Linked DNA regions of Homo sapiens: region 2 is linked to region 1. The links come from fine-mapping of genetic effects on gene expression. A gene starts in region 1. The other region holds a variant in brackets. All regions are shown on one strand. Distances are from middle to middle.

The links. PIP is the estimated chance that this variant, and not a neighbour inherited with it, causes the effect.
Region 2: its variant is fine-mapped to the expression of NATD1 in whole blood (TOPMed, PIP above 0.99).

Annotation. Positions count from the first base shown.
Region 1 is chr17:21,248,415-21,259,146 of GRCh38, forward strand. It overlaps NATD1 (N-acetyltransferase domain containing 1), which reads right to left and starts at 4,996. Exons shown (of 3, transcript NM_152914.3): 1 at 4,745-4,996. The coding sequence starts at 4,850. RefSeq lists an enhancer at 626-1,127 and silencers at 4,618-4,737, 4,888-4,997.
Region 2 is chr17:21,209,935-21,220,666 of GRCh38, forward strand. TMEM11 (transmembrane protein 11) reads right to left here and starts at 4,227. Exons shown (of 2, transcript NM_003876.3): 1 at 4,157-4,227. The coding sequence starts at 4,218. TMEM11-DT (TMEM11 divergent transcript) reads left to right here and starts at 4,391. Exons shown (of 2, transcript NR_184102.1): 1 at 4,391-4,516; 2 at 10,431-10,732. RefSeq lists enhancers at 4,129-4,228, 4,999-5,208 and silencers at 4,309-4,448, 4,569-4,838. The variant G/C (reference allele first, on the strand shown) is at 5,759.

The sequences.
Region 1 (10,732 bases):
AACATGCCTGGGGTCCAGCTGCCTCTCTGGCCTCCCTGCCTTGGTGGCTGCTCCCCTGCCTGTCACCTTTCTGCCCAGGGCCTCCGGGGACCCTTCCTTCTCATTTCAGGTGAGCCCAAAGGTCACGTGCCCAGAAGCCTCCCCTGACCACCCGCAGCCCCCATGATGGGACAGCAGGACACCAGGGTAGCACTGTCAGCCACGCTTTCACTTCTGGGCACTGTGGATCCTGCTGTCTCGGCTCACAGTGACATAGGCATAGCCTCTGGGCCTGGCCCAGGCCCTTATCTGGGCAGCTCTAAGAGCTGCCTTGAGAACTCCAGACCTCAGACTAGCACAGGGGGGCAAGACTTGTCACTTGGGAGCCACAGGAGCAAGCCTAGGGCAGGGCAGGGCCCTCAGTTCCAGTCTCAACTCTGCCAGGTGATCTTATGCCAGTCCTGACACCCCTCTGCCCCAGAGACCTCACCTGTCCCTGGATGATCACTACCACCCTCCTCCCTCCTGGGCCTGAGAACCCCACCAGCATCACGTGACTGGTTTGGGAAAAGTTAAAGCTACACTGCTCGTGGGGGACCCGTCCCTGGGTCTCTGCACCCCCATGCTCTCTCTGCCCCTCCTGAACCTCGGGACCAAAGGGGGCCAGGAAATTGTCAGGGGAGGCGATCACAGAGAAAGACCAAAGCTTGCAGACAGGGGACAGGGGCAGGACCTCTGGGAGATGTGGAGTCTGCAGAAGACATTGACCTCTGCTTTCTCCACTCGGCCCACACTGACCCCGCAAGGAGAGCTGGCAGATCAAAACGCGAATATACAGATGAGGAGACTGAGGTAGACGGAGGCAGAGCCCAGGCGCCAGAGCTGTGGCACGGGACAAGGACAAGCAGACACCCTGGCCGGCTTTTCTGGCACCTCTGTAAGTAGAGCCTGGATCAGGGAGGTGCCACATGTTGGTGGTTCATTGGTAGATTAGGCAGAGGGAGCTGTGAGCCTGGAGAAGCTCAACCATACGTCCCTCCCCTCCCCAGAGGACCCTGGTCCAGCCCAGCCCAACACAGCCAGCGGCCTCATATTGGGGCTGTGATCTGAGCACCTCCCAAAGCCTGGGGCTGTGATCTTAGCTCCACTGCATCCAGGGGTGCTGAGGGAGGCCAGGGGCAGCAGCTGACTCTCTGGGGCCTCAGTCTTCCTGGCTGCAAAATGGGGGTTAGGGAGGACGCAGAAAGTTCCAGGGTTCTGCACCCCTCAAGTGTTCCTTTCCTTGCAGCAAGTGGGACACTCAGCCCTGCCTGTGAGGGAAAGGGAAGGCTAAGGAAGGGGCTGCCCAGGAGGTGGGGGTCTCTTCCAGCTGCCTCCAACCTTCAGAAACCGTCCTCAGATGGAGGCCGGGGGCTTGATTCTGGCTTAGCTGCCTACAGGCTGTGCGCCTTGGTTTCCCCATCTATAAAGTAATGACAAGCTTGCATTTCAGAACCAGGATATGGCATCAGACAAGCCTGAGCTCAAGCCTTCCCTCATCACCCACAAGCAAGTCACAGCCATGCTTCCTTCCACATCTGTCCAGGATCTAGACGTTTCTCCCACGCCTGTTTGCAGTGCCTGGACTAGTAAAGTAACCACCTCCCTGCTCTGTCCTGGTCCCCACAGTTTGCTCCCCTTAGAGCAGCAGCTAGAGGGAGCTGGGGCATCCCATCTGTCTTCTGCTCAGGACCCTCCTGGGAGCCTCAGAGTCAAAGCCGAGCCCATAGGACAACGGCTTCCAGGCCCTGCACCACCTGCTCCCCATGACCTCTTGACCCATCCTGCACACACAAGGCATCGCAGGCACTGCAGAGCCTTTGCTCTTGCTATTCCCTCCACTTGGAACACTCTTCCCTGTTGCAGCTCTGTTTCTTGCCTCCTTCAGGTCTTCACTTAAATGCCACCCTCCAGGGAGGGGCCTTCCTAGACACATGATTGTAAATAGCAGCCCTGCCCAACACAGCCTCCCCTCTGCCCCCTGCACCTCTCATGAAAGCCCTTGTTTTCCAGGATACTTTAAAACTGACTCTATTTCTTGTCCATTTCCCTCTCTAAACTGTCAGCCCCAGGAGACCCCGACACCTAAAAGAGTGCTTGGTACATGGTAGGTGCTCAACAAATACTTGCGGGGTGAATCACAGCTCTTCCACCTCTGTGGTGCAAGACTTTGGGCAAGTCATTTCACTTCCCCATGCCTCAGTCTCCCCATCTGTATATGGGAAATGCAGTTTCCCCTCTCCCTGTGGTGTGTGGCTATGAAATAAAGTGACTCCAGGTGCCCAGGGCCTCCTAGAACACTGTAAATGCTTAATAAACAAAGGTGCTCAAACGTTTTCCCTCACTCAGAACCAGAGCTCGCAGGAAGAGAATCAGCCTAGCTGTGCTATGTGGACAGCCTAGGAACACTTCTGCACCAGGAGCCTGGGGCTACCTGACCCCTCAGCCTCAGTGTTTATATCTCTCAGTGGGCACAACAGCACCAGCCTCCAGGCTTGCCTTACAGGTCGGGAATGACACCACAGCCTGTTGTCCTCCTCAGCTCAGGGAGGCCTGGGCTCAGACTCAGACGACCCCTCTCTGGTCCCAAGACACACACCCAAACCCAGTGGGGCCTGGAAGCCCAGAAGAGCCCCACCCTGTGCTGCACAGCCACTCCCTTGGGGGCCTCTGGCCTCTCTCTTCTTTCTCCCCTGGGCTTGGCTGGGGAGATGCCCAGCCACATCTGTGGTCAGCTATCTGGGCAGTGAATTCCAGAAGGGGGTAAGTTTAGAAATACGGCTGGGCATGTCCAGCCCTGACCACGGCCAGCTCTGGAGGGCTGTCCTTTGGCTGTACCCACTTGGAAGAGAAAGAAAAAGAAAAAAAAAAAAAAAAAACAAACGTATCCCCTCTTCTTTCTGTCTCTGAGTATAATGGCCCTCCCGAGCCCACAAGGGAACCAGAGGCCGCTCTGGAACCTCAGAAGAGAGGATTTGAAAGCCATGAGGCCTCTCTCCCAGAGTCGCCAGGGCCCCGAGTGTCCTGGCCAGCTGAGCCCTGCCAGCACCACAGCAGTAGCAGGACTTGCCTCTGCCTGGTGGTGTAGGGTTGGTTGGGCCAATGGTGAAGTTCTGGGTGATGCTGGGCAATCACTTCCTAAGGTCCCTAGCCTCAGTTTCCTCATCTGTAACACGGGGTGGTATGTCACAACATTGTCAGGGTATTGTGACAGTCCCATCCACGAAGCTGTAGTGGGGCCTGGCTCGACACTCGGCACATTCCAAATGGCATCGGAGATCTGGCAGAGGCCCCTCCTGGCTGAAGCCAAATGTGGGTCGCAGGAGCCCCACCGTTCAGGGAGTCAGACCAGTCAGGACGCCATCCCAGCTCTGCCCAACTCTCAGCCTGACCTCTCGCAAGCCTTTCCCTTTCCTGGCCCTCCACCTTCCCTTCTTGAAAATGGGCACAGTGGCCCCTAAGGACCGGTCCAGCTTGGACATTCCCACTGGGGCGAGGTGGGCCACAGGGAGTTCATAGCCCTTGTTTTTGTAGTTCTATTTCCTACCTGTGGGACCTCCTGAGGGGGGATGGGCTAATCAAAACTTCTCTACACTGGCAGGGCGTGGTGGCTCACTCCTGTAATCCCAGCACTTTGGGAGGCCATGGCAGGTGGATCACCTGAGGTCAGGAGTTCAAGACCAGCCTGGCCAACATGGTGAAAGCCTGTCTCTAATACAAAAATTAGCTGGGCATGGTGGTGGGTGCCTGTAATCCCACCTACTCCTGAGGCTGAGGCAGGAGAATCACTTGAACCCAGGAGGCAGAGGTTGCAGTGAGCCGAGATTGTGTCACAGGAACATTGTGTCGCCTGGGCGACAGAGTGAGACTCCATCTCAAAAAACAAAAACTTCTCTACACTAAGGGAGAACTTGCCCTTGCTTTCTGGCTTCACGAATCACGATCGGGCCACGTTTACCAGCACTTACTAATCCCCCATGAGCTGGTCTGATCCTTTACATTTGTTACAGTCTTTCATCCTTACAACTAGCCAATGGGGTGTGCACTGGTATTATTCCCATTGCAGAGAGGGAGAAACTAAGGCACACAGAAGTGAGGCAAATGGCCAGTCCCAGAGCCACTGAAGTCTTGATAGTGATAGCCATCCCCCCGCCCCTCACTCCCCCCAGGGGACCACAAGCCCCTTTCGCGGTCAGCCCCAGGTCCGCAGGCCTCCCCCGTGTAGAAAGACTAAGATTCCCAGGGGCAGCAGGAAGCCATATACCACCCGCAGAAGGGGACAGGTCACGGCTGACCAACTTTCCAGGATCTCAAACAGGAGCCTTCAGTGGGTGCCCAACAGTCGTGAACAAGTGGGCCTGAGCAGGTGCGGGTCCCCTGCGGCTGAGACAGGGGACCCGCGCTGCCCCAGCTCCTGCCTCTGCCTTTCCAGGGGCCCCTGTCCGCCCTGGCCCCTGCTCTCCCGGGAAGTCTGCCCCCGCCCAGCCCGTTCCACTTCCCGGAGCGCCGGCCGCGCCCCCACCTGGCCCCGAGCACAACCCGGCCCGCGCCCGGAGCTCCGGCCGCCCGGGACCACCCCGCGGCGCGCGCTTGCAACAGCCTTCCCGGGCGGCGGGCCGGAGCCGGGCCGCGGGCGCGCGGGGGACAGGCACCCAGCAAGGGGGCGGCCCCGGCGGGCCCCGCTCGCTCGCAGACAAAAGGTCGGGGCGGGCCGGGGCCGCCTTACCGTTGAGCCGGACAGTGAACTGGCGGCGCCGGCGGTCGTGCTCCACGCGGATGGGGCAGCCCTGCTCCAGCGCGCCCAGCGGCACGGCGGCAGCCGAGTGCGCCATCTGCGCGCGGGGCTGCGGCGCGGCGCCGGCGGGGGCCGGGGCGCGCGGGGAAAGGTCAGGCGCGCGGCGGGGCTGGAGCGCGGGCGCAGGCGGCAGGCGGTGGGGTAGTTACGGCCTGGGAGACCGCAGGCGGCGGCGCTGAAAGTGACACTCGGCGGCGGCGGCAGCAACAAAAAGGGTGGGGGGGGGGCCAGGAAATCAGCTGTGAGGTCACGTGCGGCGCGCAGCCAGTGGACGCGCGGCCTTTTTGTTTTGATACATTCCAGTCACCTCTTAAAGGGGCCGCGCCGGCCGCGTTCCTCTCGCAGCCCCAAACAAAACAACACGGGCCGCCGCCGCGCCGCGCCGGCTACTTTTCCGTCTTGCGTTTGTCCCACGTGCAACTTTGGGACCCCCGCAAGGAGCCTTCTAAAAAAGACGTAACAATCTTTTGTATGGACATTCTAATCGTCCCCAAGGCAGCCACCATTTATTAAGCACTTGCTGTGTGCACGGCCTGTGTATAGCAAAGCCCTGGCGCACAGGGCGCTCAGTAATCACTGCGCTGAGATTTATCACCAGAAGCCTGAGAAATAGGTATGCTTGACTCCATTTTACAGATGAGCAAATAGAGGCTAAGACAAGTGAAAGACATGCATAAGTTCTCACGCAGCTGAAGCCCTGGGGCTACTGGTGCTAGGAGTGCGCACCCACCCGTGTTGGCAGCCTGGGTGGCTACTGGCTACTGGGAAGGAATTGTCCTGTGAAGCCTTGTTTGGGATAGGAGTGAAATGCCACCTCTCCCAAAGAGAGGCGTAAATGCGGGAAGAGGCCTTGGGGATCCCTGGATCCACTCCATAGATGGGGAGGCTGAATCCCAGAAAGGGGCAGGGACTTGCTTGAAGACACACAGGACTGTTGGGGCTCAGACTTCTTTGAAAGGCGCCTTAATTAGGCTCCTCAAGGCTCAACCTTAGAGCCACACCCTCCCCTCTTGCTCACCTGAAGGGGCACTCCTGTTGCCCATAGCTGTGCAGTGAATCATACAGGTTACTTTTAATATTTTGCTAATTACGGTGCAAACTTGATGTTCACACCCGTGTGACCACCATCCAAATCAAAATACAGAACACTGGTGGTTCCCTAGGGCCCTCTTCCAAGCAATGCCCTACCCTTTGAGGTAACCACTGTCCCTGACTTCTAGTGTTGTTGACTAATTAGGTTTCTCTAGACCATCATGTAAACATAATCATACAATATATACTATTTTATTTTATTTTAAGACGGAGTCTCTCTCTGTCGCCCAGGCTGGAGTGCAGTGGCTTGATCTCGGCTCACTGCAGCCTCTGCCTCCTGGGTTCAAGCGATTCTCCTGCCTCAGCCTCCTGAGGAGCTAGGACTACAGGGCTACAACAACAAGCCGGGGTAATTTTGGTATTTTTAGTAGAGACAGGGTTTCGCCATGTTGGCCAGGCTGGTTTCAAACTTCCAACCTCAGGTGATCCATCCGCCTTGGCCTCCCATCGTACTGGGATTACAGGCATGAGCCACCGCACCCAGTCCAATATGTACTTTTAATGTCCAATTTCTTTTGCTCAATATTTTATCTGTGAGATTCATCCCTGTTTTTGCATCTTTTTCGCCACTGAGTAATTATTCCATTGTGTTGACAAAAAAAGCCAAACTGTAAAATATTTGAAGAGCTTATTCTGAGCCAAATATGAGTGACTATGGCCCTGGACACAGCCTCAGGAGGTCCTGAGAACATGTGCTGGAGGTGGTCGGGTTATAGCTTGGTTTTATACATTTTAGGGAGACAGAAGTTACAGGCAAAGACCTAATACCTGTAAGGTGTACATTGGTTCGGCCATCCAGAAAGTGGTGGGGGCTTACAGCTCATAGGTGTATTCAAATATTTTCTTTTTCTTTTTTTGAAACAGGGTCTCGCTGTGTCACCCAGGTTGGAGTGCAGTGTCGCCATCTTGGCTCACTGCAACCTCTGCCTACCTGGCTCAAGCCGTTCCTTTGTCAGATATATTTACCGAGAATATCCTCTGATCCTCCCATCTCAGCCTCCCAAGTAGCTAGGACCACTGGAATGGGCCACCACACCCGGCTAATATTTTTGTATTTCTTTTAGAGATGGGGTTTCACCATGTTGCCCAGGCTCAGGCGATCCATCCGTCTCAAACTCCTGACCTCATCCACCTGCCTAGACCTCCCAAAGTGCCGGGATTATAGGTGTGAGCCACCCTCACCTCGCGCCCCCACCCCACCCCCCCAATTCAAAGATTTTCTGATTGGCAAGTGGTTGAAAGAGTTAAGCTTTTCCTAAAAAGAGTTGATGTCAGAAAGAAATACTCGAGTTAAGATAAGGAGGGGTGTGTGGAAGCCAAGGTTCTTATTATGTAGATGAAGCCTCTAAGTAGCAGGCTTCAGAAAGAATAGATGGTAAATGTCTCTTTTAGGACTTTAAAAGGTGTCAGACTCTTAGTCAAATCTCTCCTTAATCAGAAAAAGACCCAGAAAGGGAGGGGGATTCTCCACACATGCAAATTTCCCCCACAAGAGATGGCATTGCAGGGCCATTCCAAAATAAGTCGAATAATATATTTTTGGGTAAAATTCGTTAATTTCCTTCGGGGCCTGTTATCTGTCATGCGATGCTATACCAGAGTCAGGTTGGAATTTGTTATCTTAGTGCTACAAAGAGTCTGTTTTGGGTCGGGCGCGGTGACTCACGCCTGTAATCCCAGTACTTTGGGAGGCCAAGGCAGGCGGATCATGAGGTCAGGAGATCGAGACCATCCTGGCTAACATGGTGAAACCCCATCTCTACTAAAAATACAAAAAAATAATTAGCCGGGCGTGGTGGCGGGCGCCTGTAGTCCCAGCTACTCCGGAGGCTGAGGCAGGAGAATGGTGCGAACCCGGGAGGCAGAGCTTGCAGTGAGCAAAAAAAAAAAAAAAAAGGAAAAAAAGAGTCTGTTTTGTCAGTCTAATTATATATATTTTATGGGTTTTTTTTTTTTTGAGACGGAGTTTCACTCTTGTTGCCCAGGCTGGAGTGCAATGGCACGATCTTGGCTCACCGTAACCTCTGCCTCCTGGGTTCAAGCGATTCTCCTGCCTCAGCCTCCCGAGTAGCTGGGATTACAGGCATGCACCACCACGCCCGGCTAATTTTGTATTACAGCGTGCTACCATCCTGGGCTAATTTTTTTCAGTTTCATAGAGTTGGGGGCCTCTCTGTGTTGCTCTGGCTGGTATCAAACTCCTGGACTCAAGTGATCCTCCTGTGTTGGTCTCTCAAAAAGTGCTGGGTTTACAGGCATGAGCCACCATACCTGGCCTTTGCTGGATCTTATAGTAGGTGTATATTTAGTTTTGTGAGAAATTGCCAGAGCTTTTTCCAAAGCGGGTGTACCATTTTACACTCCTGCTGACAATTTTGAGAGTTTCATTCGTTGTACACTCTTTTCCAAGTTAGCCATTCTGAATGTGAAGTGGCATCACATTGTAGCTCTCACTTGCGGCGGCCTGTTGAATGGAGATGTTGAGCCTCTTTTTATATGCTCCTTGGCCATTTGGATATCCTGTTGTGAACACTTTGGCCAACTGTTGTGCCACAGTTTTTGTGGCGCAAATTTAATTTTTTTAATTTTTAAATTCATTAGAGTGATTTTTGTTGTTCAGTTACCATTCCTTTGTCAGATATATTTACTGAGACTAACCTCTGCTAGCATATTTTTATTGTTATTTCAACCAGTGTGTCTTGTATTGGGAAGTTTGTAAACAAAACAAGGCTAGAGAGTGAGTCTTTACATGCAAGGAGACAGAAAGTGATTCTGGGGTCAGGTAAGTCCTTGACCTCAGCTGAGTCATGTTGGCTGCAGTCCTGAGCAAGCAAGATGTAACCTCATGAGTGTCTCAGGTGACTTCTCCATCTCCAGAGCACTTAAGTGGTTTAGGGAGGCCAGAACGTGTTCCTGAAATCTCTTTTTTTTTTTTTTGAGACAGAGTCTTGCTCTGTCACCCAGGCTGGCGTGCAGTGGCGCAATCTCGGCTCACTGCAAGCTCCGCCTCCCGGGTTCACGCCATTCTCCTGCCTCAGCCTCCCAAGTAGCTGGGACTACAGGCGCCCGCCACCGCGCCTGGCTAATTTTTTTTGTATTTTTAGTAGAGACGGGGTTTCACCATGTTAGCCAGGATGGTCTCGATCTCCTGACCTTGTGATCCACCCGCCTTGGCCTCCCAAAGTGCTTACACGCTTGAGCCACCGCGCCTCCTGAAATTTCTTGAACCGGCCATACTCGTTCCCTCCTCTGGGCCTATGCATGTGCTGTTGTCCAAACATCACCTCCTCTGGGAAGCCCTCATCTCTGCAGTCACATTTATTTAGTGTCTGTTCCCCAGCTATCCTAGATCCAGGACAGATTCCTCTCTCATCAGTCCCTGGCAGAGCCCAGCACACACCAGGGCCAGTTAAAAGCCAGGGTCTTCCTTGTCTCTGGCTCCCTTTCTTCTCCCCTGCTTTTGAATATACTTAGCTTACTGGCATCTTTTCACCTTGCAGAAATCCCTTCTGGAACAAGGATAAACAAAAGAACCAAGTGAGCATTTACTGTCTGCTGAGTCAGTGGATGTGCTCTGCCTCCCTACCCTGGGGAAGCAGTATGTGCCGAAACCCGGCCATGTGGAGACCAGGTTGTAGACGTAGGATATCATTTATTCAGTCAGTCATCAGTTCATTTAGCAAATATTGGATGCTTACTGCATACCAGGTACTGTCATAAGGAGACCCAACAGTGAACAAAACAAAAAACTCCCTGCCCTTTAGGAGCTGATGCTCTAGTTGGGGGAGAGACAATAAGCAAAGAAGAAAATAATGATCTGGCCGTTCACATGGCCCAGTGGGAGATTCAGCAGGGGGCAGGGGCGTGCTCCTGGAGGAGGTCATGGTTTCAGATTGGGTGGCCAGGACAGACATCAGCTGATGTGGAGTCTTTTATGAAAGGCTTGAAGGAGGGGTCGGGGTGGTGGCTCACGCCTGTAATCCCAGCACTTTGGGAGGCCCAGGTGGGCAGATCACCTGAGGTTAGGAGTTTGAGACCAGCCTGACCAACATGGAGAAACCCCATCTCTACTAAAAATACAAACATTAGCTGGGTGTGGTGGCACATGCCTGTAATCCCAGCTACTCGGGAGGCTGAGGCAGGAGAATCGCTTGAACCCAGGAGGCGGAGGCTGCAGTGAGCCAAGATTGTGCCACTGCACTCCAACCTGGGTGACAGAATGAGACTCGATGTCAAAAAAAAAAAAAAGACTTAAAGGAAGTGAGGGAGTGAATCAGGTGGTATAGGGGGAAGGGCAGAAAGAGTGGCTGTGCAGAGGCCTTGGGGTGCGTTTCCAGAACACAGGGAAGCCAGCGTGGCTAGGACAGAGAGACCCTGGAGGACAGGGGATGAGACCAGAGGTCCTGCAGGCGGATTGAGGGGACTTTGGCTTGGACTCTGATCTGGGAGGGATTGGGGCATGATCTTGTCAGAGGCGTTTGAACCAGAGTGACTCCATCTTGTATAGGGGCTGGGTAAAATAAGGCTGAGACTTGCTGGGCTGCATTCTTAGTAAATTAGGCATTTTAAGTCACAGGATGAGAAAGGAGGTCAGCACAAGATACAGGTCATAAAGACCTTGCTGATAAAACAGTTTGCAGAAGACCGGGCGCGGTGGCTCATGCCTGTAATCCCAGCACCTTAGGAGGCCGAAGCAGGCGGATCACGAGGTCAGGAGATTGAGACCATCCTGGCTAACACGGTGAAACCCCGTCTCTACTAAAAATACAAAAAAAAAAAATTAGCCCGGCGTGGTGGTGGGCGCCTGTAGTCCCAGCTACTTAGGAG
Region 2 (10,732 bases), 38 kb before region 1:
CTGAGAACTGTGCCCATAAAGTGGCTGCTGGCACCAGGGCGGAACACCGTGGCAGTCAGGAGGTTCCCGGGTGTGCTCGGTCATGGAGTGCTGCCCAACTCCACCCCCCGCACCTCGCTCATTGAAGAACAGGTGCACACCGACAAGCCGGGGCAGAGGAGCCACCTCCCCACCTCCGTGGACCCAGGCGCAGCCCTCCCCTCTTCAGAAAGGGGAGCCTTCCCTGGAACATGACCTAAAGGACTGAACCACTGAGACACAAATTAATGCACTTGGAATCCAGGCTGCTTGAGTGAACCAAGGAAAACAGAAATTCTTGAAAACTTGAAGGCACATCAATACTGAAGAGGATGAACCCCATCCTTACCTACGAATCCAACTTCTGCGGCCAGAACATGTGGCTTTGCCTTTGTTAAAGAGCTGAGCAGAATCCCACAACCAGTGGCTAAACCCCCACACACTTGGGTGCAGATCCCGTATCTGCTCATCTCATCCCAGCCAGAAGGAAACAAAAACTCCCGCCACACACAAAAGCAAGCATGGAGTCTTTCAAGAGAGATTAAATACTCCCAAAGCCTGAGAGTCTAAAAGGGAAGGATCAGATCAGAAAGGGAAGCTGTCACCCCGGGACCATGACCCAACCTGCCCCCGGGGCCTGTGCTCCATCTGCTCACTGGATGAACGTGTAAGGGCCACCTGGGACCAGGCACACCTGAGTTCACAAAGAAGAGGACAGGTCCTGGGGAATAAAGCATGGCAAGGAAAGCCATGAAAGTCAGCCCAGGGAACTGGCTGCCTATAAAACGCTGGAGCAGATGGCCGCGCAAGCCAGGGGAGGGGCAGGCCACAACAAATAACTTCGCGCTAAACCTGAACTTTTAGCCCCGTGCATCTGGCCCTCTGCACACCCCAGGTTGCCTCATATCATGCTCAGAAGCAGATCAAGTACATCTTCACGTGATTATAAAAACAGGAACTCAAGAGCACACAGCTATACTCACATTCCAACAATCACGGAGGGCTCTGGGAGGTTCAGGGGCCCTGAGACAGTGAAGCCGAGCAGCCCAAGTAAGACAGGCAGGGCTGTCTGTGAGCTGGTCCGGGCTGGCACACGGTGGCAGAACACAGATACCTGCACTGTGCTTTCCTAGATGGGCAAGTGTGTCTCAAAGACGCCGACAGGACAAGTGGCAATCTGTTTGATGTGCTCGTTGCCAGTGTGCTGAATTTTGGACAAGAATTCAGGTTACAGCTCAGAGTCTGATGTTCTTCATTACAAACACTGTTGGTTCCCTAGATTTAATGGAGTGGAGAGAAAAATCAACATGCAAGCACTACCATTTTGCTATTTCCACCCCTCCTATCTTAGTCGAAACCAGCACTGTCCATATCATAACTTTCTGCAGTGATGGAAATGTCCTCCACCTATGCTGTCCAATATGGTAGCCACAGGCCGGAAGTGGCTATTGAGCACTTGAAATGTGGCTAGTGAGACTGAGGAGCTGAATTCTTCATTTTACTTAATTTTAATGAATTTAAATGTAATTGCCACATGTAGCTGGTGACTACTGAACTGCTGTGTTAATTCAGCACTAATTCTAGAGCTGTGGTTCTAGACTCAACAAGGTAAAGCAAGAACCCACACGCTACACGTGCTAAACTGGACCATCCAACACACAGCGCCGGCAGTAATACTGCAGGCAGTCTGGCACTGGGTGGGACCTTTAAGTACAATGCATGCTTCAGAGTTGGTAGCCGCTGGCAAATCTGGCAAGTGTGCCCAAAGTGTCACTCTGTTCTAGCCCCTTCCCCAAACCAGATAATGTTTCCCTCAGCTTCAGCAAAAGCAGATGCTAACCAGGTGTGAGCAGCAACGGGAGAGAGCACTCGTATAACATGGAGCTGAGATTTGAGTCAGCACGAATGTGACATGGAACAAAGTCATTTTAGAGAGCCATAAACAGCCTACTTCAGTCATAAGAGCCAATAATACACTCAGATCTCATAATCTAGAGTGCTGGGCCATCAGCTAATCCGCCCTGCCCCACCTGAACAGTCATCACCAACTGAGCAGGAATGGAGGGATGCCCAGAAGTCAGCTCGCTAGCCCCACAGCGGGTTATGTTTCCATCCCCTGCTCAGCATGGGAAGAGCTTAGGGAAGCTGGGCTCGGGGAAATGACTCTTCCAACAGAACCTGGCTAGGGGTTTACAGCAAGAGCAAACAGACAGGTAGTCTCCACCCATACCACGTTATCTAGGAGAGTAGATGGTGACATCCAAACTACAAAACCAAATGCCACATTCCTGCTGACACACAACATCTGCGTGTGTGAGTAGAGCCTTCAGTTCCAGGCCAAAGGTGCAACCTGAACACCTACAGAGACCAAGCAGGCAAATGCATTGAGTCAAGCTGACAGGTGATTTGAGTCAAGCTGTCAGGTGATTTGAGTCAAGCTGTCAGGTGAGGAACCAAGAACTGGAACCAAGCACTTGTCCCGACCAAAAAGAGTCAGCCACTACCCAGCTTTTCAGGGAGCGTTTTATATGAAATCTGCTGGCAACTAATTTAAATTCTCTTAAAAACTGTTGAGGTTCAACAGTCAAGGACTGGATCCAGCCTATGCACTGCTAATTTGCAGATCCATTTTGAATAAACAGTTGTCTCAAGCCAAAACAAAAACAATTCTCAGCATCTATTTTCTTAGATCAATAAAAGCTTAACCTGTGCTGGCAAGGCTCCTGTTCCCTGCCTGAGGCATCCCTATTCGGCTCTTTTCAGATGCTTTTAGTCCAACAAGAGGGCGTATGTTTCTAATACTTTGTTTTCTAAACAGGTTATTTCGTATTACTGTTTGCATTGAATATCTTGAAAATGTTTGCTAGTTTTTAAGAGCATCTGAAAACCATTGAGGTAACTTATTTAAATGGTCCAATCTAATACCAGGCGGGAGTTAGAAAAACAAAAGTGTGTTTACCACTGCTTTTCCAAGGAAGAGGAAATGCAGAATGGGCAACGCTGGATAACTGGGCTAAAGAATAAAGTGCAAGCAAGCTAAAGGATTCTATCACAACTGCCAAACAGGAAGAATCTTCCCAGCTGGGAAAGCCATCTGCAAGCAATAGCAATGAACACGGGATGGAATCAGTCACAGAAAAGGAATAATGCAGAGTAGTTGAGAGGAAGATAACTTTTCTGTTAGACAATCCTCACCAAAAAGACGGGGAGGGGGAGAACCAGCAAAACAAAAACTTTTCCTTTTTTGCTGACCGCTGCTATAACAATCAAGCTTTAGCGGACAGTTAATCCAGGTGGCTCCACCAATACATCTTCTCCCAAATTTCTAGTGGCTGAACAGCTTCTAGTGGTTTCCACTAGCTGAAACTGCTTCCCAGATGCAAAAACTGCAACTTGAACATGAAACACGGAAACTACTCCAATCTCATCTTCTAGAAATCAGTTATTCAAATGGAGGTCCCTGTTGGAAGAAACACGCTCCTAGCTCCCTGCCCACACACCATTCATTAGGAAAGGTCACTTTAAAGGACTTCTACGGCAGGAGCGCTTGCACAGAACCATCCAAAAGTCTTCAGAATCTTCCCTCGAGGAAGTGGCCGGCTCTGGGCTCGGAAGAGACACATCTGGCGGGAGCTAAAGCTCCCTAGTAAACGTGCAGATCAAACTACCCCTGCCGCGGCCGGCCTGCTCTGTGAAGGCTTCCCCTTCTTTCTCTCTCCGGGGGCCCTGCCTTCCTCTACACGTCTGGGGCCGCGGCCGAGATGGCCACGCGCGTGCCCAGGCGGGAAGGGTGCTTCAGCAGCCGATCGGCCCGCGGGCAGCTAGGCGGGTCCCTGAGGCCTGCGCTGGGCGCCAGTTCCTTTCAGCACGGCCCGGCCTCGGGCCCCGCCCCGCATGGCCGCTGCCTACCTTACTCAGCCCGGCTAACGCCCCTTCCCCTAAGCTCTCCGCCGAGGCCTTCGACCTCGCTCCCACCCGGATCCCGGATCCTCCGGAACTGGAACCCAGTATGCCCGGCGAGGGTAGGGGGAGCGCGGGGAAACCAGGGAAGGAAGGCTGCTGCAGCCCTCGGAGGCCGCGCTGGGCTCTCCGGCCGCTGAGCCGCCTGCACTGGGGGCAACAAGCCCTTGGATCTCACCTCTCTCGGGCGCTGCCGCCACTGCTGCCCGGGCCAAGACGCCTCCTTCCCCAAGCGGCCATCTTGGAGACACTCTGCTTGCCAACGTCTCGCGCCAAGGCGGCATCGGGAGAGCAGGCGGGCCGACGGGAAGTGTAGTCCGGCCTGCGGTCCGGGGCCGCTCGGCAGGCGGAAGCCAGACCCGGCGGAACTACCGTGCCCACAAGGCAGCGCGCCGGAAGCCCCGCCCCCGGGGTCGCCGGGGCCCGTAGTCCTTCTGCGAGGGCGCGAGGACTCCAGGAGCCGTCCTGGTTCGAGCATTTCTGAAGAAACTGAGTTCCCGGCGTTCGCAGCCTGGGAGTCACAGGCGCCCACCCACCGGTAGGTCCTTGAGTTTCGAGAGCCAGTAGCTGAAGGAGAGAGGAGAGGCAAGTGCCTACAACTCCCAGAGCACTGCGCGGAGGCGCCCGGCCGCGCTGTCCTGGCCGCCAGGCTGCCTCTCCCGCTGGGGGCCGCCGCGCTGTCTGCGGGCTACTAGCGCCGGGCCCCTCCGCGTCGCCACGCCTGCCCTTCACAGCCTTGGCCCATAAGGTCACCGAGGGGCGGGAGGCGCCGCCCGGGCCCTCCTTGGAGGCGGGCGCTGCTCCCGCACCATCCTCCCCCAGTTCTCTTAGACTCCGGGGTACTTTGGAGGCCGAGACAGACACGCTGTCCCTGCTGCCACGGAGGTCCCTGCTTGCAGGTGCAGGCTGTTAGAGGAGAGGGTCTGAAAACAAGAAAGGGGAATAGCTGTATGATAACTGCTTGAAGGCGAGAGGGCCCAGCGACAGCTCTGTTTTAGACAGGGCCTCCAGGCCTCTTAGACTCAGTCCCTGCCACGCACCCACTCCTGCCCTGGCCGCTGCGACGGCATAATCTCGGGATCTTTGAAGGCAGATGCGGGGCTAAACCATCCCACCTGACGGGAACCCTGCCACAGGACCCGACATATCCCTGTCTGGACACTGCTGTAACGAGTCAAAGTCAGGAAGGACTAACTGGAGCCCAGAGATTCCCAGGTGCTGCTGCCTCAGACCTGTGGACTCTTTGGAGGATCTCTTACAGTTTGTGAACTTCTCAGTTCCTCTACTGCTCCCACAGACAACGTTGCTAAACATATTAATTGGTCCCATAAATACTTGAGCAAAACAAATGCGAAAATCTGTCCCGAATTCAGCCTAGAAGAAGCCCAGCCCTGCGCGTCACACTTCTGTGTAGTGGAACCCCCCTTCCCACCCCGCCGCAGGCCACAGCAGGAGGGCCAGCAGACGGAAAGGCGACCCTCTCCTTGTTGAGGATTCCTTTCGATTTCCTTCCAGCTGACATTCTACCACAGTTTTAGCTGCTTGCAATCCTCTCACCGTCCCTCATCACCTACAGTGTGTGATTCAAATTCCTTAGCACAATCAAGAAGCCCCTCCTTAGTTTGGAAGTTGCCTAGCTCTCCAAATTCAACTGCCTACCTTTCCCGTCTGGAACTTGCCAGGCTAGTAAATTCAGAGGGTTTGCAGATACGTAGATGTTCTATGCTTTACCTAAAATGCTTTTACCTCCCAGCCAACTTTTTTTTTTTTTTTTGAGACA[G/C]AGTCTTGCTCTGTCGCCCAGGCTTGAGTGCAGTGGTGCGATCTTGGCTCACTGCAACCTCCGCCTCCCAGGTTCAAGCAATTCTCCTACCTCAGCCTCCTGAGTACCTGGGATTACAGGTGGTGCCACCACACCCAGCTAATTTTTGTATTTTTAGTAGAGACGGGGTTTCACCATGTTGGTCAGGCTGGTGTCCAACTCCTGACCTCATGATCCATCCCCCTCAGCCTCCCAAAGTGCTGGGATTTACAGGCATGAGCCACGGTGCCCAGCTCTCCCAGCCAACTTTTGTCCTTCAAGACCTTGTACCTGTCTGGTCTCTAAAAAGTACCTGGCCTTCCTGTTGAGTCATACAGCCCTGCCTCCAAGTGTCAGCGTAGTTCATGCTGGAGACCTCTTAACAGTTCCATGGTATGACACTGCGGATATGGCTGTCTTTTCTTTGTATCAGTGTGGTGATTCAGAGGGTATACTAGGGATTCTAGAACGCACTTCTGGCTCAGGGGCTGCTTGTGTAACTTCTGTTTCTCAGCTGCCTGGTTTGTATCATGGGATGATAGTATCTCCCCTCAGAGGATTGCGGTATTTCATGAGGTGATACGTGTATGGAGGCCAAGTGCTGTTTTATATTTTAAGTGATCTACATCTTGATTTTCACAACAACTGTATAAAAGTGATACTGTTGGCCAGGTGCGTTAGCTCACGCCTGTAATCCCAGCACTTTGGGAGGCCAAGGCGGGTGGATCACCTGAGGTCAGGAGTTCAAGACCGGCCTGGCCAGCATGGTGACACCTCGTCTGTACTAAAAATACAAAAATTAGCCGGGCATCGTGGCACACGCCTGTAATCCCAGCTACTCGGGAGGCTGAGGCATGAGAATCATTTGAACCCGGGAGGTGGAGGTTACAGTGAGCTGAGATCGCACGACTGCACTCCAGAATGGATGACAGAGCAAGACTCTGTCTTAATAATAGTATCACTTTTTTTTTTAATCAACAATCTCATTTTGTAAATGAGGAAATCAACTTACAGACGACCTGAGTGACTTGCTCACACTGCCAGCCAGGAAAGTGCTAGGATTTGAGCCCAGACTGTCCAGTTACAGAGATTACACTCTGCCATTGTGCCTCTCCAGAAGCACTGGAGGTAGGTCTAGTGCATAGAGTAAATGTAAATGCTGAAACAACTGTGGCCCTAATGAACATCCCATTTCTCCAGCTTTTTACTCTCCCCTTAACTTCTGAATGACCGTCTGCTTCTAATCTGCCAACTTGGTCTAAGATCCTCACGGTGTTTCCTCCTGATTACTGTTAATGCACGGAGGTTGTCTGGAAGGTTCATAGGCAGCCTGATTGACTCAGTATGTATTAGCTGAGCACCTTTGGAGGGCACAGCCTGAGTGGTGGGAATTAGTTCCTGGGGGCTGTCCTGCGGTGGAGACTCCCGTGAGCCCTCTGTCCTGCTGTATGAAGGCAGCCAGTGGAAAGGCATGTCCTCGCTGGTGCTCAAAGTAATCTGCTACTTCTCTTACTACACTTTTCATTCATTCATTCTTAAATCGTTGAAGGCATACTCTGCAGGTACTCTTGGGCACAGAGATACGGTGTTTAGTAAGACAAACACTGTTCCTGGGTCTTAACGGGCTTTACATTCCAATGGGATAAACAACTTAAGTAAATATTTTCAGAGAGGAGTACCAAGAAGAAAAGGAACAGGATGATATAATGGAGTGACTTGGAGATCACAGGTGGTAAGAGGTCACTCTAAAAAGGTAACATTTGAAGGCTGGGCACAATGGCTCACACCTGTAACCCCAGCACTTTAGGAGGCTGAGGAAGGAGGACAGCTTGAGTCCAGGAGTTTGAGGCCAGCCTGGGCAACATGGGGAGACCTTGACTCTACAAAAAATTTAAACATTAACTAAGTATGGTGGCACGTGCCTGTAGTCCTAGCTACTGGAGAGGCTGAGGTGAGAGGATCTCTTGAGCCCAGGAGTTTGAGACTGCAGTGAGCTATGTTTGTATTACTACACTCCAGCCTGAGGGACAGAGTGAGACCCTGTCTCTTAAAAACGAAAACCCGACTGTATCAAAAGGTAACATTTGAGTGGGACTTGAAAGAGTGTGCATGCGAAGGACTGAAGACAGAATGTTCTGTGCAGAGCGAATTAATGCAATGGCTTTGCAGTGCAGATGGGCCTGGGGTGGTCCAATAAGGTTAGGACCAAGGTGGCTGGAGCATCATGAGACAAGCGTGGTACTTAGCTTGCCTTTGGTTAAGTCACTTTCTCTATTTGAATTTCAGTTTCTCACCTGTAAAATATGAGTAATTTTATCTGTATTAGCCAGTGTGTAATTAGAGGAAAAACCATTTAATACAGGGTATTGTTTACAAAGGTGTTGGAAGGGCATGAGAAACAAGGGGAGAACAAGGGCACCCAAAGCCTGACCCCCACAAGGCTAGAGGAGCAACAGGAAAATTCGTTTCCAGAGACTGATTCCTCAGCTGCTGAGCAGGAGCCTGGAGCCACACTTGCTGCCTGGTACTACTGACACACAACTGGAACCACCGCTGTGGCCTGGGGTGCCACCAGAAGCCAGAGATTAGAATTGCTTTCCCCATCTCATATCTTCCAAACTCCCACCAGTGCCTCCCACTGGCTGAGTCAGATGACAAGGGAGTCTGGGAAATGTAGTTGTTTGGCTTCCAGCCCTGACCATGGAGAGTATAGAAAGGCAGGTGTAGGGGAGAAAATAGATGCCATTCACACAGCGCCTATCTTGCAGGGCTGTTTTGAGGAGTAAAAACTCAGCCTATTTTTATTCCTCATAGCATGTAGTAGCATTCAGGGAAAGGCAAATCTTCCAAAACAATATCTTAGGTATAATAGTTCTACATAAAGGTTTGAATTTACCATTAAAAGCATCAAAATGAGCATTTTAAAAGTAGAATTTTAAGTCTGAATGGGCAGTATATTCACATGGTATAAAATTCAAATTACAAAACAATATACAGTGAAAAATAAGGGGGTTTTTTTGCTCATCTTCTTGTGACCTGGCTCTTTCCATCTCTGTCCACAACCCTCTGCAGGCAATAACTGGTACCTTTGTTATGGATCCTCTGCAGATATAAAGTAGACATATATTAACAAATGTTTTCTTTGGCCCAGAGGATGCATATTATGCACATTCCTCCATTTCTTGTTTGTTTTTGTTTTTTCCACTTAATTGTATCTTGGAGATCACTCTGTATCAGTATATATCTGATTTGTTTTAGCAGTACATGATAATCCATTGTTTGGATATGCCATAATTGTATCAGCCAGTCTCTGGACAGTCTTTTACTATTTCAAGGAGTGCTGCAGTAAACATGTTTGCGCCACTTCCTGGTACCCATTGCAAATAAAACTGGGATAATTTCCTGACGAGAACTTGCTGGGTCAGAGTGTAGGCACTTGTTGTTTTGATAAATATTGCCAGACTACACCCCACTCCCTCCAGCAGTACATGACACTGCCTATTTCCCCACAGCTGTGCCAGCATGGTCTGTTAGCAAGTGTTTTCTTTTTGCAAATTTAAAAGTGGTATCTCGCTAAATGCAATATGGTAGCAGAGGACATTTGTGGAAAAACAGGTGAAATCTGGGCTGGGTGTGGTGGCTCATGCCTATAATCCCAGCACTTTGGGAGGCCGAGGCAGGCGGATCACAAGGTCAGGAGTTCGAGACCAGCCTGGCCAATATAGTGAAACCCCGTCTCTACTAAAAATACCAAAAAAAGTTAGCTGGGCATGGTGGTGCAAGCCTGTAATCTCAGCTACTCGGGAAGCTGAGTCAGGAGAATCGCTTGAACCTGGGAGGCGGAGGTTGCAGTGAGCCAAGATCATGCCACTGCACTCCAGCCTGGGTGATGGAGTGAGACTCTGTCTCAAGAAAGGAAAAAAAAAACAAAAAACAGGTGAAATCTGAATGGGGTCTTGAGTTCAGTTAATAGTAACTGCCAATGTTGGTTCTTAGTTTTGACACATACCATGACTATGTGAGATGTTAATGTCAGGGGAACCAGGATGAAGGCTATACAGAACTGTACTATTTTTGCGACTTCTCTGTACATCTAAAATTATCCTTAAAAAGGTTTCTTTAAAAAATGACATCTTGTTTTCTGTAAAATTTGAATTTCTCATGAGTGAAATGGAACGTTTTGAATATGATGCTCTTTTTAAAAGGTGGCCTTAATAATTTGTATTTACTAAGGAAAAAAGTCAGAGTTTATTTACTTTAAAAAAATTCAGGCCGGGCGTGGTGGCTCATGCCTGTAATCCCAGCACTTTGGGAGGCTGAGGCGGGCGGATCACGAGGTCAGGAGATCAAGACCATCCTGGCTAACATGGTGAAACCCTGTCTCTACTAAAAATACAAAAAATGAGCCGGGCGAGGTGGCAGGCGCCTGTAGTCCCGGCTACTCTGGAGGCTGAGGCAGGAGAATGGCGTAAACCCGGGGGGTGGAGCCTGCAGTGAGCAGAGATTGCGCCACTGCACTCCAGCCTGGGGGACAGAGCGAGACTCCGTCTGAAAAAAAAAAAAAATTCATTAACAGTACATTTAAAATTTCTGTTACTGGAGATTGTATTTCTCATTCCATCCATTAATGTGCAGCTTCAATGTTTTCCCCCAGATATGCAATTTCACTTACAGGATCTTGTTCTTCAGTGACATGTCATAAGAGTTAATAATTCCACAAGCCACCCTGCACTGCTGTGATCCTAACAATATTGAAAGGTTGGTGTGTATCCTTTCCTACCTTTCCTCATTCTAAAATGTTTCCTCGTTCTAAATGCCAAGCTGGTTTTGAACAACTGACCTCAGGTGATCCACCTACCTTGGCCCCTCAAGGTGCTGGGATTATAGGCATGAGCTAACATGCCCAGCCCTAATCTGCTCTTCTTAGATGGATACTTGTCAGATTGGGTTAAGACC